2 separate regions of the Homo sapiens genome follow, and region 2 is linked to region 1. Evidence: fine-mapped expression QTL. Tissue or cell type: cerebellum. Region 1 holds a variant in brackets; the other region holds the start of a gene. All regions are shown on one strand. Distances are from middle to middle.

Region 1 (3,038 bases):
TATTCTATGCACAAAGATATACATCTACCCCAGGATGGTGGTAATAGAGATGTGAAGAATGGAAAGCATACAAAAATATATAAAAGAAAGAGGATTAACAAAATTTACCGATTTGTTCTGAGAATTCTTCGAAAGATAGAAATCAAAGCAAAACAAAAATTTAGGTCTTGAGTGTCTGTGGAAATGATGGCACCATTAGTCCAAGTAGAGAATAAGGAGAAGTCAGCTTAACATCATGGGTTTGTCAAATATATAGTGTAAGCCAGACTTTAATAAGTTACTAAGTATTGGGGATGAGAATCTGAAGCTTTAAGAAAAAGAATTCAAGGGTAAAAATGTATATGGAAAGATGTCTTTGAAAGTATGTAAAGATCTACATTACAAATATTTATGTGTTTCCTATATAGACATATATTTTTCTTGGAAGACCTCTTAGGTTAATGCTAGCTACATAGTTAAGTTCTCAAATATTATCAACTTAAAATAATAAAAATATGTTTTTTAACACAGAATGATCCAAAGTAGGTGTTTGCCAGGTGGCCTTCTTTGCAATAATTAAGAATCTACACTTTCTCCATCTTGTCGAGCCTTGAAATCCTCTACTTCCAGCCAGGAAAATGAAGGAGAGGATCATTTGGGGGGATTTTATGAACTCTGCTTGTAAGTGGTACATACCACTTCTTCTCTGGTTCCACTGGCAACAACTCAACCACACTGGCATACTTAACTGCAAGAGAACATAAAGAGAGTTGTCTGACAGTGTGCCTAAATAAAAATGGAAAATTTCTGGAATTTATATCACAATCTCTGCCACAACTCCTTTTAACATAAATAATATGTCAGAGGCAGATTGTTCTAAAAAGCTTATCAGAGAAACATCAGTTTCTTGCTAACTGTGCCAATTTCTTTTCCTCTATAGGCAACCATTTTTCATTCTTTTCTCTTATTACATAAATCCAATACCTCTACTAATGGCACTTGTCAGCTATGTGAGTACACTGCTCAGATTTCCTTTCAAGAGAGTTTCTTGCAAGAGAGCAGTTAGCTGACAACTGTGAGCTGCTATATTTTCAAAATCCCCAGCATATTTTTAGCAGGCCATGCTCTACCTTGGTTAATGCCTGTCAATGACTGAGTATGGTGGAAGTACTAGTGCCAGGCCATTTCTTCACAAGTGGTAAATCCCTTTAACAAGCGTATTTTGTGTTCTAATCATCCTGACTGAAGCTTGCTCAGGCATACCCTACAGTCTGATCTCCCTACTACTCAATTTTCCTTCCTTCACTCTTTCCTTTTATAGGTGTCAGAACTGTATTTCTATCTGCAAGCTCCTTGTGTTTTCTCTTAAACCCTGTTCCAATGATGTTACCCAGGCATTTCTAGCAAAAAATATTTGCGGGTTTAATTCTTTCTGTGTCTGATTCTTGAAAATCTTAAACTTAGATGACTCTCAAGTTGACTCACTTGGAAAACTAAAATGTTATCCTTCATTCTTCTCTCTGCCTTTTCTTCAGTGTCTAACTGATCCCCTAACAATGCCACCTTAGAAACGCTCACTCTCATCCCTTTTCTCTACTGCCCAGCAGAATCTCTGTTGGATCCTCATTACTTTTCTGAGTTACAGA[T/C]GGAATTTCTTAAATTGTGCCCCTGATTCTAGTCTTGATATCTTCAACCTACAAAAGTAGGTTGAATATGCAGCCAGACTAATACGGCAAAGTTAATGTTGTAGTTCCTCCTCAGGAGGCTTGCAAACGCAAATGCCTCAGGGAACTGGCAGGTTATATAAATGAGTGAAGCAAGTGAAGAGTGTGGTGACCCATAAAAGTGCCTTTTCTTCCACGAAAAGCAAATTTCTCAGGTGTAAGGCAACACCGATCCAGTATGAATTCCTGGTTTTTCCTTTTCTTTGTTTTTAAGGTTTAAGGAAACTAGGTTTTAATTTTTTAAGTTTTTGTAGGTACATGGTAAGTGTATATATTAATTCTTGATTTTTCAAGAGAATCCTTAATCTGAGTCTTTGTGGAAAAATTTCTATATATTTAAATTATAACCCACTTATTTATGAACACACACACACACACACACACACACACACACACACTCTGAATTTACCCTGCAGCTGCCAACTTTTTATTTCTAAAATACAGACTACTCATTGGTATTGGCACATGAGACCTATCTTGAATAAAACCCGGCTTCTCTCCTTATTTTCTGGTTAACCCACTACCTCCTTACACTCTATACAACTGTACTGACCCACTTGTAGTTCTCTGAGTATTCCACTTTCTTAATGCATCATAGCTTTTGACTTTTTTGATCTTTTGTCTAGAATCACTTAGCCAATCTCTAATCATTCTTCAGGTCCTCTTATATCCCTAAAAACTGGGTTAGGTAACCCTTCCTCGTGCAGCAGTAGAACCCTGTACTTAATACTGACACACACTATCTTAACCAAAATTGCCTATTCTTTATGCCCTATCTTTACTTCTAGCTGAGGACACCTTGAACTGTGTTTTGCAAACCATTGTTGTTGCATCACCTATTGCAATTTTCCTGGTATATAATAAACACAAAATTTTTTTGAGTTGAATTAATATATTAAAACAATGTTTGATGGCATTATAAATGGCAATGTATCTGATTATTTTTTCCCCGTAGGAAAAAGTGTAAATTTCCTTCAGCTCAATAAAGCTAGTTAATGTTCTAGTTATATATCTTGGATCATTGAATATACTGATCTCTGCTAGAACTGGTTCATTTTCATAGAATTTTGTGGACTTGTTTCATTGGTCTCAATGCTCCCACTTTTCTTAGTGCAGTTAAGTTGTTTAAGTAGACCCTTGAACCAGAGCTTAGCTATAAAAATTTAACAAGGTAAATGCCAAAGCTTTTCTGATCCTTTCTACTTTCTCACTATGTACAAATAATGTCAACATGCCTACTAAAAGCTACCCTTCTTATGAGGCTTCTGGGATGCACATTCTGTTGACACACAGGCTCTAGATGCCATTTGGGAAAATAAGTGGTGGAGTTAGATA
Region 2 (2,500 bases), 380 kb before region 1:
TTCTGAAGTTGTGAGAGGAATATAATAATCTTGTTTTCTTTTTAGTATAAGAAGAGATAGATGGGCGGAAGGATATCTGAGTAACCATTTTCTGGGAGATATTTTAAAGATAAGTGATGCTGGTTATTAAAATATAAATTACAAAATTGTTTGGCTGAACTAGATTGCAATAGGTTGTTCAGCAATGGGATTGGAAATAACAGAGACCATTGATAGTCATGGTGTAAAATAAGTGAGAAAGTACGAGGACATTATTATTTAGCTTTTGGATTTGGAATGTTAAAGAATAAGAATACCCCAATATTATTAGACTATCAGTGGTTGAAAGTTGAATGGAGGAGCTGTGAATTATGCATTGTTTCTCTTGCAGAACCCAGAGATCCTAATGTGAGATGGTGAGGGAGGGGGATATGTATTATTAAGAAATTTAGGTTTGATCTGTATTACTTTTACAACACAGAACGAGAAAAGAATGTAGACCTCCGGCTGGGGTTAGACTTGCTCCCTTCCGTAAGATGATGAAGGTCAACTTCCCTGTTTGAAAAAAAACAAAGTATGCTCTATGTGCGCGGAAAATCACTGTGCCAGATCTAGTAAAAAGCCACGATACCATTGGGTGTGGAAATGCAGAGACCCTCTGATTCAGGCTGTGTATTAGTGTCTTTCTGAATCACAAAGAACTCATGGAGAGTTATGATCACATTGAACACAGTAAAGGAATAACTATAATCATTTTTTTCAATTATACAAACATGATTGACTTTTTAACGAAAGACTGCTATTCTTTCAAAACACACGTTTCTCTCGCATTTCAGTTCCTTTTGCACTCACATTGCCATATGATACTCCTATCAAGGCTGTGATTTCTTCGGTGAATTAAGCAACAGAGCATGGATAGCAAACAATAAAACAGCTACTTTTCATGCAACACAAAAGAGGGAGCATTTTTCTCAGCACCGCGGCCTCATCACATCTTCTGTGTTTCCTGTCCCATGGGCGACGCCCCCACTCCCACCCGGTCTCCTTCCCGAGCAGCTCTGGGCTGCAGAGCCAGCTGCGTGCCATCCCGCTCTGCTTCAGCGCACGCTGAAGACGGCACTAGGACCCAGGGAAGTCCCCGAGCGGGGTTCGCGGAAAGGCAGCCAGACTCCTCCTTATCTCCAGTGTCAAACTTGACATCAGCCTGCGAGCGGAGCATGGTAACTTCTCCAGCAATCAGAGCGCTCCCCCTCACATCAGTGGCATGCTTCATGGAGATATGCTCCTCTCACTGCCCTCTGCACCAGCAACATGGATTGTCAGCTCTCCATCCTCCTCCTTCTCAGCTGCTCTGTTCTCGACAGCTTCGGGGAACTGATTCCGCAGCCTTCCAATGAAGGTAAGCCAGGTACCGCGACGCACGGAGCTCTGCCCCGCGGGGCTCACGCTCTTCAAAGCACGTTCTCACCGAAGCCTTGCACGTCGGGAAGGTGCCTCCGAATAGAGCAGTTTGCTCTGAGAGTGAAGGAAAGATGTGCCTTTTTTTTTTCCAACTGTCTTCTAAAACACTTCAGGAGATAATTTTAGATGGTCTAAACTTTGAAAATGTGTTTTTAATCTGACACCATTTCGAGCAATTACCTTGTTTGCCAATTTGAGCAGAAAGAAAGAAAGAAAATCCTCCAGCGTTGCAACCCAGTTATGTTAATTGCCAAATAGCCAAGGCAGTATTTTATTTTCTAATTATGACCATGTGGTACTCCGAGAAGTTTGAAAGAAAATTCAGCCTTCCTCTCTAGACTCTTTAGTATGTTTAAAGGTAATGACAGGTTGTTCCTACTTGGGATCATGGCATTTATGAATGGACTAAAGGGAAATCAGAGTTTGTCGAAGCGGAGGTGCGTGTTTATGGTGCAAGGGCTGTGTTGAAGTTGTGTGTATCCCGCCAGGCAATGGTTTGCTCTATGGTACAGGTTCTAAAGAGCAGCATATGCCACATTAACGTAAGTAATATTTGCAAGAATTACAATAAGCTTAGGTTGGATTCTCTTTGTTTAAAGGCTTATATACAAATAGGAGAATGTATTTAATGAATAGTGGATAGCTCCTGGGAAGATATAGTAAATAACTGAATAGTAGATTAAGAGAGAATGTTCATATGCAGCAAATGGCATTTCCTTGATGTTGTGTTATTTATTATCCTTGTAATGAGCATTAATTCCTTTTCAGTGGGTTAAAGTGCAAACCTAATGTTAAGGACACCAATGTGTTCTATAAGATTGTGTACTTAATACATACATTTTCTTTCTCCTGTATTCCTTTTGTGATCTATTCTTGTGAATACAGTCACTAACTCGTAAAACAAACTTCTCTAAATAATTGATTAGTGTAAAGCCACACTTACAACATTAATTTCCTCTTAGTGATTTTGAACTTATAACAGTAACATTTAGCAATTTATTTTGCAAGTTAACAATACCGAGCAACTGATGTGCAAACATCATGTTATATACATCACTCC

Evidence for each region. PIP is the estimated chance that this variant, and not a neighbour inherited with it, causes the effect.
Region 2: it holds the start of EPHA3, and the variant in region 1 is the best candidate, but not a certain one, in a credible set for the expression of EPHA3 in cerebellum (GTEx, PIP 0.60).

What each region holds. Positions count from the first base shown.
Region 1 is chr3:89,483,602-89,486,639 of GRCh38, forward strand. No RefSeq gene overlaps it. Among named protein-coding and RNA genes, the nearest start is that of EPHA3, 380 kb to the left of the region's middle. The variant T/C (reference allele first, on the strand shown) is at 1,626.
Region 2 is chr3:89,106,459-89,108,958 of GRCh38, forward strand. EPHA3 (EPH receptor A3) reads left to right here and starts at 1,163. Exons shown (of 17, transcript NM_005233.6): 1 at 1,163-1,378. The coding sequence starts at 1,291. RefSeq lists an enhancer at 1,005-1,144.